2 separate regions of the Homo sapiens genome follow, and region 1 is linked to region 2. Evidence: fine-mapped expression QTL. A gene starts in region 2. The other region holds a variant in brackets. All regions are shown on one strand. Distances are between the middles of the regions.

Evidence for each region. PIP is the estimated chance that this variant, and not a neighbour inherited with it, causes the effect.
Region 1: its variant is fine-mapped to the expression of SPINK5 in ileum (GTEx, PIP 0.97).

Annotation. Positions count from the first base shown.
Region 1 is chr5:148,091,098-148,099,893 of GRCh38, forward strand. SPINK5 (serine peptidase inhibitor Kazal type 5) reads left to right here. Exons shown (of 33, transcript NM_006846.4): 8 at 68-131; 9 at 3,257-3,384; 10 at 4,721-4,808; 11 at 6,770-6,897; 12 at 8,137-8,218. It overlaps LOC124901185 (a long non-coding RNA gene), which reads right to left and starts at 2,645. Exons shown (of 3, transcript XR_007059139.1): 1 at 2,485-2,645. The variant G/A (reference allele first, on the strand shown) is at 3,967.
Region 2 is chr5:148,058,594-148,067,389 of GRCh38, forward strand. It overlaps SPINK5 (serine peptidase inhibitor Kazal type 5), which reads left to right and starts at 5,387. Exons shown (of 33, transcript NM_006846.4): 1 at 5,387-5,506; 2 at 6,754-6,779. The coding sequence starts at 5,452.

The sequences.
Region 1 (8,796 bases), 33 kb after region 2:
ACAGGACTGAGGATACTGAAAATATGATTGAGTCATAAACTGACCAACTGTTTACTTTTCTTAACAGTTTAAAAGAAGCTGAAAATGCCAAGCGAGAGGGTGAAACTAGAATTCGACGAAATGCTGAAAAGGTAAAATGACTCACCAACGCAATTTTGTTCTTGTGGCCATATTTATTAACAAATGTATGCCTAAACCTTTGAGTAATGAAATAAAGTCATTGTCTTTTATTATTATATAGATATTTTTCTTAATATCAAAATTCCCCAAATTGACTATTCCTAGAATATTAATCATTAGATTCAGATTTAAAACAGCATTTCCTACCTAAGGCCCAAAATGTGCAGTTTCCACCTGTGTTTCTCCAGTCCTCTAGCCCCCAAAAGAAGATATAAGATAGAAAGTTTGTATAAACCAAATTCTGCTTAATTTCTAGCAGCCTTCTTTTTGGTTTAGTGTAAACCCATTTTACTCTGTATAAATTGTTTAAAATTGGCAATGAAATATAAATTAAACAGGAATAATTTTAAAATAGTGAGAGTGTTTTAAACACTATATCCACTAGTGCATTTTATGTGCAATTAAATTGACACAAGTTGAAGTTATTCACTTTGCCATTGTGATTATTCTGTTCAGAAAAACCTGCATTTATAAAGGTCTTGATTCTGCTTTAAAAAAAAAAAAAGACAAATTTTTAGAATGTGTTTTAAAAAAATCCTTAAAATTATTTTTTTGAAATTACTTGATAATTTAATTATTCAATCTAGTATAAAAAGTTTTGAATAAGCACTTTAGGTAATGCAGCCTGGATTTCTTAAATCACCTACTTTCAATGAGAGGGATAGCAGTTTCTTTGCTAAATGGCTAACCTTTTGTTGAGAAGTCAGAACGCCTGAGTTTTAGCCTTGGTTTTGCCATGCTCTGGGTGTGGGAGACTAAGTAAATAATCATCCTGGGCCTTAATTTTCTTGTCAGCAAAGTAAAGAGGTTGGATAATGACCTGAATTTTACCTTCCTGTTGGACTGTGATTCTACATCCTGCACACTTTTGTACTAATACAAGTGCACTCCTTTTTGCAGATCGTAGGGCTTATGTTTTCCTAAAGGAAGAAACAAGCCCACCTTTTGGTAGTCAAGAGCTAGCCCTTCAGTTCGTAATGCTTATTTAATGAAGCAAAGCTCTCAACCTAAATAGGGTATTGAAGGTTTACATTTAGGAAAACTAAGTATTCAGAACCATCTACAGTTTATGCAACACTTGCCAAGGATTGAAAAGGAATTCTTTTGTGGTGGTTGTTAAATTTCAGTCTAAAACTTTGGGTCATCCTGTGATAGTTAACATTTTATTACTTCATAAACACAGAGAGTTATTTTCCTTTGTTTTTCATTAGGTCTCTGTACTTCCCTCTTCCTCTCTGTGGCTAGGGTCATTGTTTTGGTGGGGTCACCGGGCATGATGGTGTGAATAGGACTGCTTTATTGTGATGGCTCAATATGTTCCCTATAATTAACTTGTCACTAGGTTGCAAACACAGTGTTTCTTCAGAATCTCCTTGGCTGAATCACAACTTATAAACTGAAATTATCATTGTTTCTTTTACGAGAATCATTGAGCATTAATTTTTTATACCATGCTATGATTATCAGGTGACTGTCTTCTGCTTCTCTATTTCTAGGTTGTTACAACCATGAGGTTTGGAGCACATCCATTGCTCCTCCAAAAATAAATATCTTCTTAATAGGAAGCAGTTAGGATTCTCTGTTAAAGCATCCCAATGGAATTTGAATTATTTTTTAAAAAACCAAAGAATGCTAGATCTAGAAAAGGTCCTACAGAGCATCTGTTCCAAAAACCTCATTGTAGAAGTAGTAACTGTGGTTCCAAAGGAGAAGGGACTTTGCTGTGGTCTCCCATTTGGGTGAGAGGGACAATCTAGTGGCCCAGGTCATTTGACTCCTAGCCATGCTCTTTATGCCCATGTTTTCTTGCCTGAAATTGAATGACGAAGGTCACACAGTTGAAAAGAAAGTTATAGACCAGGATTTTTTGTAGGTCATATTATAGTACTATATCTCACCACAAAATGTTTAATGACATAGAGATCCCCAAGCCTAGAGTAGCTTAGAGTATCATTTTTTTGGTAAAGTTTAGCCCTCCTCACATAGTAGAGTTTTCAAAACACAGAAAGTAGCCTGAAAGTATTGAACCAAAGCATCAGGAAATCTGAAAACAAATCTTTCTTGGATTTTTTTTGGTGGGGGGAAGTCACTCCTTTTTAGCTTTTCTAAATGAGTATCAGTCTTGATGATCTATCTGTCTAAGGTGAGGGTGAAAGGAAATTAGATCTACTCTCTCTCTACAATGTCAGAAATTATTATGGATAAAGAAGGCAGAATACACAAAAATTATCCACAGATCCATAGAGAAAATCAACTAAAGTAAGCATAACACTGTTGGATAACATCTTGTTTCTTTATACTTACAAACTTAGCTGGATTATTCTTGACTTGATCCATATTAAGTCACTTTTAGACATCTCATCTTCTCACAACTTTTTTTTCTTTTTTTTTTTGTGATTTGGCTGCTGCATTTTGTTGTGTTTGTGCTGGAACCTCATGAAAGATATCCCCTGACCCCTATTGATCTGAAAGTTAAAAAGAAATACCTAGTTTTAATCCAAGAAAACTCTTGGTCAGCCTTATTTTTTCCGAGGCTGTTTTTTATCTTTTAATAAACCTACCACATAACAGATACAAGTGCCAAGTAGTTGACAATATAATTACTGTTTCTTAGTAATCCTCATTAATATGTTGTATGTATTTGCCAACTTCTAGACCTGATGTTTTGTGGTAATAAATCTATTATAAAGTTTCCAGATTAAAACGTAGAAAAATGGTAAATAAAATTACTTGTTGGCTGGATGTGTTGGTTCATGCCTATAATTTCAACACTTTGGGAGGCCAAGGCAGGAAGATTACTTGAGCCAAGGAATTCAAGACCAGCCCGGGCAACATGATGAGATCCAGTCTCTACCAAAAAGGAAAAAATTTAGCCGGGTGTGGTGGTGCATGTCTGTAGTCCCATTTAGTTAGGAAGCTGAGGTGGAAGGATCTCTGAGCCTAGAGGTTAGAGGCTTCACTGAGCTATGATCATTCCCCTGCAATCCACCCTGCGCAATGCAGCAAAATCCTGTCTCAAAAAATAAAATATCCTGAAATGAAATGAAGTAAAATAAATATAATTGTCTTTTCAAAGGATTTTTGCAAGGAATATGAAAAACAAGTGAGAAATGGAAGGCTTTTTTGTACACGGGAGAGTGATCCAGTCCGTGGCCCTGACGGCAGGATGCATGGCAACAAATGTGCCCTGTGTGCTGAAATTTTGTGAGTATAGAAGTGGTTTTTTCAGAGTGATTCAAAGGGTGGGAGTGGAGATTGATTGGATTGATGAGTAAAAATAACTTTGAAAGGAAGCTTTGTTGTTGAGAACCATCTGAGCAGTTTTATGCCCTCCACAAATCATAATGCCACCTAGTGAGCAGGCACTACTGATGTTTGTCTATTTCTGAAGAGAAATGGATTCCATTTTCCAGTTGAAATATTGACTTACAGCATAGCACACTTCTTAACATTCCCCTGTGACTGTGACCTATGTGAAACTGTTTGTGAACTAATTCTAGTATAGAATGGGGGTAAAAGCAGGTACCACGACTTCGATTGTTTTTCTTCAGTAATTATCCCATGGTAACAGTGTTGATGCAACACTCTCAGATACTTCAGGTTTATACATTAATTGGATTACTCTTATCTTTTTATCTGGGACATATGACCTTGGGAGAAGGGCAAATCTCACAACATACAAATTATCACATTTATGAAAATGTCTTAGATGACATCTCATGACACTTTCGGCTTCTCTAGCTCTACAAGCCCTTTCCTGTGTCCTGTCCTATGCCAGTTCCTCCC[G/A]GTCTTGGCCAGATGATGTCCCCTCCTCTTGTAGATTACATTTCAGATTATCTTTCCTTGGACAAGAACTCCTAAAGTCCTTCCCTAATTGAAATTAAATTCTCATAATCCTTAGTAATTGTCTTTTCTAACCACCATCACAGTTGGCAATTATACAATTATTTCTCCAAGTTTTTGTTGACTTTCAGTCTTTTCTACCAGCCTCAAGAACTACAAGAGGGCAGGGTATGTGTTTGTATTATATACTCCTGCATGCCCAGGGCCCAGCCAACACTTGCCCAAAAAACCATAATTACTCACTAAATGAATGAATGAAGATATGAATGAAGATCTCCCACTCTCAAGAAGCTTAAGTTCAGTAGCAGAAATAAGCCATGGACATGTGCACATATTTATATATTGCAAAATAGAATAAAAACTGCTGTATAAGAGAAGACTATTCGATACAAAAACACAGCAATAGACATAGCGCTCATTTGTATTTGGGAACTGGAATGTCTTCTTCAAAAAGGTAGAATTTAAGCTGCAGAGTTTTAAATTTCTTTTAAGAAAGGGAGATGAGAAAAAAGATCATTTTAGTGGAAGTAAATGGTATAAAGGTGAAATTAAAGGGTCTTTTTGGGGATTTGAGGTGTTTTTAAAGTGTTTGTACTAAAACTCAGGACAACTTAGATATTTTTCCATCTATACCTAATGACTGTTTTGTAACATGAAGATCGGAAGCATCTCTACTCATTTATTTTACTTTTTCCAGCAAGCAGCGTTTTTCAGAGGAAAACAGTAAAACAGATCAAAATTTGGGAAAAGCTGAAGAAAAAACTAAAGTTAAAAGAGAAATTGTGGTGAGAATCAGTTTGATCAATCTAGTTACAACTTGTGTGTGTGTGGGGGGGTGCGTGTGTGAGAGAGTGCATATTACATAGTATGCACTTTCAATATTGTTTAATATTTTCCACACTACTAGTAGGTTTGCTGGAAACTAATTTCTAGTTATTATTTTGTGAAACTTAGATTAAAAAATTATGGCATTACAATTTCTAGCTGTATATGGAGGCAATTAATCAAGTCACATTAATAATGTAGTTTTGCACTCCTAAATGAAGGTGAAATATCAAAACATTGTCTGAATTCAAAGTGTGATATGTAGTCTTCGATGTGTGGTAGCTATTGTGAAGGTATTTACTTCAAAAACAATATCAATGTTGAATTTTAATGTGCTTCCTTTTAAATTATACTGTTCTCTGCTTTCTAAGTATCTTTTAACTAGTCACCTGTCTGTTTTTCTACTGCTACCCTCTTAGCTCAGACACTTAATAGTTTTCTTTTGCATTGACGTATTGGCATTGTACCTGGTTTGTACACTGTTGGTCTCCATCTTTCTCAATCTTCAAGATTTAATTCATCCTCCATGTTGTTTTCATATGTCATAGAATATGAGAACAAAAACTATGGTTCCACGAGTCAGCGATGCTATAAAATTCCAATGTTTGAAGATATTCTAGAGTATATTCAGACCATTTCACTTCTTATAGAAACCCTAACTTATTTCTTACAGACAGTTTTCCAGACTTCTATGATGTGCAGTCAACAGTTCTCCTAAGTAAGCCACTCCATCAGGCCACCCTCTGCCAGTATAACTCCATTTTCTTTCTTTCTTTCTTTTTTTCTTTTTCTTTTTCTTTTCTTTTCTTTTTTTTTTTAAGACAATTTCTTTCTTTCTTTTTTTTCTCTGTCACCCAGGCTGGAGTGTAGTGGTGGGATCATGGCTCACTGCAGCCTTGACTTCCCACTCTCAAGCTATCCTCACACCTCAGCTTTCCAAAGTGCTAAGATTACAGGCATGAGCCACTACACATAGCTTAAGCCTCATTTTGAACTGCTTTCTTCCCCTCAGTCCTAGGTTACCAAGTCCTTTTAATTTTGATATTCAAATATCTGTCAACTACTATTTTATCATTTATTTCCAATTTTTCTCCTTCCTTCCCTTTCTTCCTTTCCTTTCTCCTTTTTCTTTTTCTTCTCTCTATTCTTTTTTCTCTTTTCCTCCCTCTCTTTCTCTCTTTTTTAATAATATAATTACTGTTCTAACTTCAGTCCCTAGTTAATCAAATCCTCCACACATCTGGTTGATAACCTTTGTAAAACAAAGATTTGATTTTGCCATTTTCTGCTATAAACATTTATAATTTTCCCATTGCCTAAAAGTAATATCCAAATTCCTTTCAAAGTTTAGTGGTCTTTGATTTTCAAGGTCTCCTTTTGACCATTTCCCAAATATTATTCTCTTTATCCAACTAATTATTTAGCCACTATATTCATAAATATGTTAGATTACCTCAAAATAGCATGTTCTTTCACACCCCTGTGTGTTTGTCCATTTAATTCCTCTTGGATGGCCTTTTTCCACATTATGTTCCTGAATATATTCTCAAGATAGAACTTAGACATAAGTTCCCTGAACTTCCATGAATTATTCTTTTCATTGTACTTGTACACACTTAATTCAGACTAGTGTTATATTTCTTAGCTTTTTATATTGCAATTACTTATCTTTTCCATTTGACTGATAAAGAACATAAATATAAATAAATCATATTTCTATTTATATATTCCTAACTTAAGCATTCGTTGAAAATGTAAATGGATATTACAAGGAGAGAAATATCACAATTTTTGGATGGTCCTAAATCTTAAAAGTTTTATTTTTCATCCTTAATTTCTCTTTTTTCTTTGTAAAATAACATTTAACATTCATACATAGAAAACAGAACTATATCTCAACTTTTTCTTATTCATTATTCAGAAACTCTGCAGTCAATATCAAAATCAGGCAAAGAATGGAATACTTTTCTGTACCAGAGAAAATGACCCTATTCGTGGTCCAGATGGGAAAATGCATGGCAACTTGTGTTCCATGTGTCAAGCCTACTTGTGAGTATAGAGTTTTAGAATGTCAAAGAAAGAAGGGATCTTGCAGGTAATTTAATAGAAACAGCTTCTTTCATAGATGGGGAGACTGTGGCTCAAGACAGGGAAGTGAGTTGAAAACATTACATGGAAAATATCAGTGATAGAGCTGGGAGTAAGTACCTAGAGTTATTTGTTTTAAGACGCCTTGTTCCTCTGACACTCCCTCTTTTAGCACTGGAATGTCCTGACAAACATGAACTTGTACAAATAGTAGATGCCCCCTTACTCCTGAAACTTCACACGTTAGCCTGTTTTAGCAATTTATAGGTATCTCATCTTCCATGGGAGTTAAGAGTCCAAAGGTGATGCTTAATGTAGAAATGGAATAAAGTCAAAATTCCCATGAAACAACACTAAACTCCTATAAAATTACAATGGGTATTATTTTATGTAATGCAATATTTCTCAATAAGTTAGAATGGACAGTTTTCTTTCAAGATTTACGATAGCTCTTTATTTGGCTGAGCTCAAATTAAGTATTTAACTTATATTTAGAATCTATGGCTTTCTTTGTTTTGATTGACAACTACATATGGTTGAAATATCATCAGTTAACTGTACATACTGTGCAATTCCATTGTACAAAGCAAATTTAGGCTTATTTGTTTTATCAGTATATGGAAATTATTGTGGTTTTTTTTTTCACATCTTGTCCTTTAGATGAAACAGCTATGAGTAAGCAAAATATTTAAGTTTAAAGCAAAGCTAGGGTACACATGGTGTGATAGATAGACCATGGTCTTGAGGGAGGAGACCTTGGTTGTAGTCATATCCTGAGATGTAGCAAAGACCCCCTCTACCTCTCATCTTCTCTGATTAACAAGGGGATGAGTAGATGTGCTTTGTTAAGGCCACTTTCAGCCTTCAGGTTATGCCACCATGATTTTAGTTTTGGTGCCTCTGTTATGAACATTGATCATGCTCCTTTTCTTACTATGGGCAAGAAAACTAATTTACAGAAAGCAAGTATCCCAGATCCACTATTGCCGTCTTTCTTTCAACATTAAACAGACATTATGAAGAAATCATAGCACCATACTATCCTGGAGGATATTTTGTTGCTTCTCATTGATATGCAGTGATAAAGGGACAAAATTGTTCCACTCTAAGGAGGGAGAACAGTTAACAGTGCAAGGATGTGGAGAAATCATGGCATGTGTTTGTTCCTAATGGATCTGCTTCTTTTTCCCTCTTATTCAGCCAAGCAGAAAATGAAGAAAAGAAAAAGGCTGAAGCACGAGCTAGAAACAAAAGAGAATCTGGAAAAGCAACCTCATATGCAGTGAGTGGAATCCATCCAATAAATCCTATTTGGTGCTATAATTTGAACAAATTTTAAGAGCCTAAAGGGTGAGATTTTGCCCTGCAGAAATCCCCAGAATATCTTAACTCTTCAATCTGGGGATGGTATTGAGATGAATTATATGGGAAGATTGATCCATTCTTGCTGATTAAAAACTAACTCTGCAAAAAAAAAAAAAAAAAATTGTTTAAAAGCTGAAAAACTGAGTTCTACTTCTAGTTTTATCACTTATAGACTGTTAGCTTTTGCTAACTACTTTCCAGAGAAATTCTACATGTATGCTTTCTACATATGAGTTTCTGATATTTCACATCTAATTTGAGATAAAAAATACCTTGATTCCCCCACCAACGCATGATTTTTATCCCTGAAATATTACAATATTAGTTTCCAAAGCCTTAGCTCAGTTATCATCACCAATGGTTTTGATGATAAAAGTCTCCTAATTTTCACTCTGGATTTTATCCTTTCCCTTGCCCAACCAGTCTCCCTAACATAGTTGGAGTAATGTTTCAAAATGTAAATAAGATCATAATATTGCTCTTAAAACCCACAAG
Region 2 (8,796 bases):
TCTAACAGTTTCATTCTTCCCTACTGTAAACACACACACACACACACACACATATTACACATATAAAATTTGCAATGCTTTTTTGCTAAAATTAGGTAGACTTTTTTTTTTTTTTTTGAGAAAGAGTCTTGCTCTGTCGCCCAGGCGGGAGTGCAGTGAAGTGATCTCAGCTGACTGCAAGCTCCGCCTCCCAGGTTCACGCCATTCTCCTGCCTCAGCCTCCCGTGTAGCTGGGGCTAAAGACACCCGCCACCGTGCCTGGCTAATTTTTTTGTATTTTTAGTAGAGACGGGGTTTCACCGTGTTAGCCAGGGTGGTCTCAATCTCCTGACCTCGTGATCCGCCCATCTCGGCCTCCCAAAGTGCTGGGATTACAGGCGTGAGCCACCACATCCGGCCGGTAGACTCTTAGGTACTTCAGGATTAATTTGTTATGATTTATTGAAAGACTGTAGCTCCTCAAACCTCTGTTTTCTATTGTCAGGATAAATCCTAGGAGACTTTAAAATGCACTAAATTTTTGAGTGATAAACAGTGTGGGGCCATGGGTCAGGGGTTCAAGTAATATCAGCTATAGGGAGAAGCTGATTGTTGTTTCTAAAATAAAATATAACCCATATGAAAATATTAATACAATTAAAAATTAGACATTGAAATTCCTGTCTTCTTAATCCTAATCTAATAAAAGCAGTAATTATGTCTGTAAATAGCAGGGTCTATATACTCAGTAAACAAACAATGCCCATCCCATTCTATTATTAGATAAAATGAGAGGCTTATCTCTAGTTTCTTAGTCTTTCCAGACAAACAGAAAGGAATTCCTACAGAGAGAGTGAAGTTAGTTGGTAATGCAACATTACCAGATAAGAAGATGAGTAAAGGCTGTTTTCCAGTTAGTGTCTTTTACAAAGGAGAATATAGGCCGGGCGCGGTGGCTCATGCCTGTAATCCCAGCAGTTTGGAAGGCCAAGGCGGGTGGATCACGAGTTCAGGAGATACGAGACCATCCTGGCTAACACGGTGAAACCCTGTCTCTCCTAAAAATACAAAAAAAAAAAAAAAAAAAAAAAAATTAGCCAGGCACGGTGGTGGGCGCCTGTAGTCCCAGCTATTCCGGGAGGCTGAGGCAGGAGAATGGCATGAACGCTGGAGGCGGAGCTTGCAGTAAGCCGAAATTGCACCACTACACTCCAGCCTGGGGGACAGAGTGAGATTCCGCCTCAAAACAAACAAACAAACAGGAGAATATAGACATGTTAGATTGATGGGGGAAAATATTAGAATTATAGAAAAGAAAATAAAAAAATAAAAAAGAAATTATTTCATCTTTTAAGATATATTAGAATATATAAATTTTACTCATGGTCACAACATACCTCTTTTTGCCCAAGTGATTGTGTATGTGTGTCTGTGTGTGTGTGCATGCATAGGGCTGTATCTAGTTTAAAGCACTGTAACGTCTGGATTCTCTTTTTTTTTTTGAGATGGAGTCTCGCTGTCTCCCAGGCTGGAGTGAAGTGGCGCGATCTCGGCTCACTGCAAGCTCCGCCTCCCGGGTTCACGCCATTCTCCTGCCTCAGCCTCCGGAGTAGCTGGGACTACAGGCGCCCTCTGCCACGCCCGGCTAATTTTTATGTTTTCGGATTTTTAGTGGAGACGGGGTTTCACCATGTTAGCCAGGATGGTCTCGATCTGGATTCTCTTTGAACGGTATAAAAGTCTGTGAGATGGCCGTGGGGAAACTCAGAGAAATTAAAGGTATAAAATGTAAGAAAGTGTCAAGGCTGAGATGACCATCCCAGCTAGTTCCTACTGCAGGTTTCTTTTATGACACCAATTTTGGCTGGTAAAGAAAAGATAATAACACCTAATTGGCTGCCTCACAACACTGCATAAACAAATCAAAAGAGCTAATGAATGGCAGGTTGTTTTGAAAGCTGTGGAAGGTGATCTAATCATAAAAGACTATAGTTATTTATTAACTATTATCGTCATCAAGGCTCCCTCTGTGTAGAAAAACAGAAGACTTTAGGAATGATATGGTAACTTTATATTTTGGAAATAACCTTTGTTTGTAGTAACATTACTGATCTACAACAATCTTTATAATTTTCTCATTTCCTCCCCCTGTATCAGTATCCTTCAGATTCTGCCAACCTCATAAATGCGTAAGGTTGTAAAATTCATAGTTTTTATTATCTAAGCCCACTCATTTCTAATGAGAGGAAAAAAGTTTCTACATGTTTGATGAATAATTGAAAGAGTTAAAAACAAGGATGATATTTTGAGTTAGAAGAATACCTTGATAACCTAACTCTGACCCAAACCTGAGTTCTCCAAACCTTCAATCCCATTCATTTAAATGTAATATTCATGGTGATTTTCAGGAATGAGGAGTAATTAACAGAGCATGTGATGAATCACCTCTGGCTTTACAACATTCCTAAAATGAAATGGAGAAGAAGCCCTAATGAAATGAGCCAGCTGATGAGTACTTCCAATTTTGGGGGTGCTCACTGAATCTTCTTTTTACTACTTTCTCCATTTGGAAAAGATATCAGTTTCAAACTTTTTATTCATCATTTCAGAAAAGGCTGGCATCTCTGAGGAGCTCTTTTCCAGTAAGAAGGAAACCAATGTCTTCAATGTTTCCTCATAGTAGAGATTCCTAAGACAGGCAATCATCTTTTGGTTCTTCTGTTCCACCCTAGCACCACTTCCACTCCTGGGAATATTCTCCATTTGGGCTAGGCTAGGGGTCACTAGAGCATAATACACAGTCATTGATTCCATTTTAAGGCATCAAACTCTTTTACCGTCAATAACAGAATATATGGTTGGGACACATTTCGTATGGTCTGACAGGGCAGATGAAAGATAAAAAATTAGTATTGATATGTGAATATTTAGAAGAGGCTTTTAGAGAAAGAGACAAGAAATCAATGCTGATTGAAACAGAGCAATGGTTTTCGTTAAGTTTTAACAGGTGATGTTTCGATTTGTTTAGGCATTATGGTTTAAAATACAATTAAAAGGGAAAAAGAGAACATATATCGTTATAGTTTAATTTCACCTCAAATTGTGTTGGGGTAGTTTTTCTATGCTGAGTAAATATAAATCTATTGGTGAAATCCACAGTCAACAGATGTTTACTTTTCTTGGTATCTTAGAAATTATCTAGTACAACCACGTTATTATAATTATGTAAAAATGCAAGACCAGCTATCATTAACTATCAAGCTTATCACATAAACTTGATAATTGTTCTAAGCACCTCTCTCTCTCACACACACACAAACACACACGCATTATATATATGATTTATCTCTAAACCTCTTAGCACTAGTACAATGTACGTGTTATTATTTTTATTTTACATATTAGGAAACTGAGGCTTAGAGAAAATAAGTGACTTGTCCAAGGCAACATGGCTAACAATTCAAGATTTGGACCCATTTCTAGCTTGCTTCAAAGCTGGGTTCATTTCTATCCCTACATAGTTGAAAAGACTACATAGAATAGAAACAGATTTCTGAAACCCTGTCTCATTCTCTTTCCATTAAGCTATGATGGACTTTGATTTTCTAACCTGTAACAATAATGGAATTTGAACTTGCTTTCCGTGGTCACTAATTTTACTATTCCATTGGAAAGGAGCCAAGCTACAACAATAGTGCAGACCTTGAAACCAATGATTTTATATATATATATATATGTGTGTGTATATATATGTATGTGTGTGTGTGTGTGTGTGTGTGTGTGTGTGTGTATATCTTTTTTTTTTTTGATGGAGTTTTGCTCTGTCGCTGAGGCTGGAGTGCAGTGGCGCCATCTCAACTCACACACCCTCCGCCTCCCGGGTTCAAGCAATTCCCCTGCCTCAGCCTCCAGAGTAGCTGGGACTACAGGTGCGTACCACCAAGCCCATCTAATTTTTGTATTTTAATAGAGATGGGGTTTCACCATCTTGGCCAGGATGGTCTCGATCTCCTGACCTCATGATCCGCCAGCCTTGGCCTCCCAAAGTGCTGGGATTACAGGCGTGATACACTGTGCCTGGCCCAGTGATTATATTTTTATAGGAAATAAATTATTTCATGAGAGAAAAAAGAAAGGACGTATTATCTCACTGTGATAAATCTCATAATATTGGCATACTCCCTAAGTTGGGCAACTTTGATCAGTTTTCTGGAACCATCATAAAAAGGCCTTTAATTGGATAAAGTCTCGAACTTTTCTTCTGTGGATGTGAATATCTTGAGAAGTACTGGAATGAAACAATTTGGCTCTGGTTTCAGTCATCTTCACATGTTTCTTCAGGTGCTTTCTTAAGCTATTAGGGCAAAATAAGCTGGTAGAAAAAAGGTGTTACTTGTAGGATGAAAGAAGCAACTAAAGAGAAGAAACTTTCTCTAGAAAAATGTTACATTTACACATTTATAATTGTTAACAACTTTTTTCTTCTTTTCTTTTTGGGAGACTAAATAATGGGATGATACAGGAAGAAATATGATTTAGAGAAAACTGATTGAGCCAAATTTTTCAAACGGTAATATGGGTAATCATAGGCTATGGAAAGTTAAACTGAGTCTCCAATGTTTATGATTATGATGTTTGGCTAGGATATAAAATAAGGCTTCAGAATATAAAATATCCTGCAGATTGAGAAGTTTTAAAAGTAGTTACATACAAGTTTTATTTTTCCAACGTTCCTGCCTTTTCTAATGTCTAAGGATGAAGCAGTGTACAGAGAGGAAAGAATGTTATATGTGTGGTCTGCTTGCAAGTGCTGGATGCCTCCTCTGCCTGCTCCAACTAAACTGTCTGCTTATGAGAAAGTCATTGCTCCTCTGAGTTCCTGCCTCCCTATATATTCAACATTAGAATTTTGCCAGGTTATCTTTTAGGGTCGTTCAACTCTAACATATATATGAGTCTGTGACACTGAACTCAGACACTTCAGAACAGGAACCCTGGATTTCTCTGGATGTGGAAATCTTTAAATCTATACCTGACTGGTAGGACAACCAATCTGTCTTCCTTTCCTCTCCTCTCCCACTTATGAAGGGAGTCCAGTCAGAAACATGTTTGTCTACGAGGTAGTATATCTGGTATTTCTGAGGAATTCGGTTATTATATAGGATTATAGAATATTCAACTTTGAGTAGGGTCTGTGGACTCCATCAATTGCGTTCTGGGGGAGGTACCATGAAAGAACATTCCTACTTTAGAAATAGATATTCTCTGTTCAAACCTGACACCCTGACAGGATCCTAAAGGATGGAAGCTAAAGTGGTGTGGTATATAAGTCCCATGACCTTGAACAACTGGTTTTATGTGGGTGTCACCAGTGCTTTATAAAAGTAAACTGCATCGCCCCGAGTTCAGTCATACTGCACCAGCTGAGCAATGCATGGAGTGGACCTGTAGGCGACTTGCATCGTCTTCAACATGAAGATAGCCACAGTGTCAGTGCTTCTGCCCTTGGCTCTTTGCCTCATACAAGGTGAGCAATTTGTGTGTAATCTAAGCCTCTTGCCACACATCTCAAAGCCCTGGGGAAGGGACTTTTCTCCCCCTACTCCTGCCAAAAAATGTTTACGTATGCATGTATAATCCTGAAATGTCTTGCCAGACACAGAGTTCTGAAGATTTATATATGTGGCTTTATAATTATGTTGTTATCTTTAGAAATGGCAAGTAGTTTGAGATAATCTGAATTTTCTAACCATGAGAAATTCTTCCATTAATTCTTTATTAATTCAGAAAACTGAATAGATTCTTCTTCATCTTCCTCTTGCTAAATGTATCAATTCATAATGCATATTCTTATATATGTAATAGACATTTAAAACTTAATTGTAAATAATATATGTATTTTAATGTTATAGGTATAAATGAAATATTTTTTAAAATTCAATCATCTGTTCTTATTTTAAAGCAGTGGTATCTTCTAGCTTATTTTAGTCTTGTGTTTTCAAATGCTAAATGGGTTGAAAGCATTTCTCCCAAAGAGTGAGGGACTTTTGTGGGAGCTGGAAGGTAGATTTTTATATTTGCTATTTAACCCTAAGAGAACACAAATTGCCTAGACTTACGTTGCTCTGAAACATTAAAATTTTTAAAAAGAGAAACTCATAGATAGTCTGAAATCATATACAAATAATGCCCATTTTCCTAAAATAGGTGTGTAGGTACAAAAGAGCCTATGTTAATGAGAGAGTATAATAGCCTGTGACCTTAATCTTACCTTCTGTCAGATCTCTAACTTTTGCAGCTGTAATAAGGAGGTAGAGCTGCCAGAATTCAGAAAATTAAATTTTATGTATATATCCTATAAATGTAATGCTATATTATAGTTTCAACTATAATATAGTTTCAAAATTATAATTGGTATAGTATTTTGTGTGTATGTTATATTGTAATTTTAAAAGGGAGGCTGGCATTTATTACTCCGAAAGGACCTTTTGAAGATAAGCTATTTTGATGGGGTTAGAATTCACATGAGTATTATTTTCCAAAGTAATTGTAACTTTCTGAGTGATTAGACCTTTGTGAGTATATATACTAATCTCCTGGTCCAGTGCCCTTCTTTTATTTGCCATGATAAATCTTAATGTGTTCAAAAACCATTTGCGGTTTTACAACATATTGTCATTAAAGCAATCAAGATGCTGCATTAAATGGATTATTTGTTTTGTTTATTAAATATTTTACATTTCCTTAACTTTGGTTTCTATATTTTCATCCCAGATGCTGCCAGTAAGAATGAAGATCAGGTTAGTCCTGCTTTTTCTGTTCATTGAATTCATTCCAAGATTCCCAAAGAAAAGTGGTTTGTGGCCAACACCTTCATGTTAATAATACAAACATATTATACTGGTAGGTACTAATAGCTTTTGTTAAAAACACAGAAACAGATTTTTATGAATCAGGACATGAGCCTCTCTCTCACACACACACACACACACACACACACTCAACATATTAATGATGATGGATGTCTGCAAGAGGCAATTTATCATGTTAAAGGAGCATTTTAAAATTTCATAAACAAAAAATAAATCAACTGGAAAACTACTATTGTTCCATTTAACATCTCAACAAGCCATGATACACCACATAGGAAGCTGAAATAAATTTTCTAGTAATCATTATGCAAAAGAGGGTGGTCTGTATCTTGTATATAGTCGGTGTATATAGTTCATGTAATGAATATTTATTGAGCATCTCTTAGATGTCAGACCCTGTTTGAGATGCTGGGGTTATTTTTAAGTAAACAAAATAGATGAAATTCCTGCCCTGAAAATTACGTTTTAGTGTAGGAAAACAGACAAATTAATAAGTAGCTTAGCAAAACATATGGTACGTTAAATAATGATAAATGCTAGGAGAAAAATAAATCAGGAGGCATAATAGGATCCCTGAGAATGGAGGTGGTATCCATTCTCATAAGGATAATCAGGGAAGTTCTCTCTGGACAGACAGTATTAGAATAGGAATCTGAAGGTCATAAGGGAATGAACCACGAAGGTATTTGCAGTTTACAGCAGGCCAGACAGAAGCACCTGTGAGCGCAGAGGCCCTGACGCAAGAAGGTGCTTTACCAACTCTTAAACCTCTTTTGTTTGATAAATTAAAAAATCATTTTCTACTAGAAGTTAAATTTTTTAATCTATTTGAAAGATAGGATGACCAATTACTCACACACACACATTTTATATATTTATATACACACACACTGCTATGCATGCTATTAATTCAGCACTTAAAGCACAATCTTAAATGTTTTGCTGAATATGTGGCAAAATTTGTTTTATCTCTGGCCACGAACATTAAAGGAATAAAAATGTGAAACAGCTATTCTTTACGTTGAAACTCTGAGAACCATGGTTAAAATACTCTCTTGCCGTATTTTGTTGCAATGATTTTTTTTAAAGAAACTTCTTACATGAGTGTTCTAGAGAATTTTATCATGTTCTCTACTATTTCATCTAAGTTTACTGATAGGGAGAGGTCCAGAAAGTTCAGTAGAGTAGAAAATAAGCTAGACATTTGGGAATCAGAGAGCATGCTCACTTGGAAGTTTTATACTGGGAAAAAAGAAGGATATTATATAAATATCATTGTGTATAAAACCATCATTTTCTTTTTCAGAGTCCGTGATGATGGTTGGTGATTTATGGCAGATACTGTGAATTTTACACTGCTATTTTTCATAGCATTAACCTCTATTTCACTGAAAAATATTTTAAAAACAAATTTAGTGACTTCTTATATTTGGTATTAAAGGCAAGAACACAAAGAAGTAATTATTTATTTGGAAGCCTTTCTAATCAGAGTTTTTGGATACTGTGTCAGAAATGAAAACTATTGATGTAGTCTTTTTTACGATGCTGTGATTTTGGTTATTTTCCAAGTTTAGTAGCTTGGGTTCCTTTCAGCATGATAAAAGCATGTTAAATGTCATAAACATGAACCTAAACAGCAGGGAAAAGCACTGCAGCAATCTGCAAGGATCTTAAGCATGCTTAAATTTGTCATCACCTAAGAGTCATTCTTCAGGCAAAAGCAAGCTGGTCAGTGCTCTAACACTGAGATAGGGCAATGGCAGCTCCTGGAGGGTTTTATTATAATATCTGGAGATGGACAATAGAAGACAACAAATTAGGCCTCAGCCAGTGAGGGAAACAGGAAGAACTTGGCCCTAGAGGGCTCCAGTTTTCCTGGGACATGCTGAGAAAAAGAGAATAACAGCAACAGTAACAAAACAAAACAAAAACAGGCCAGGGACTG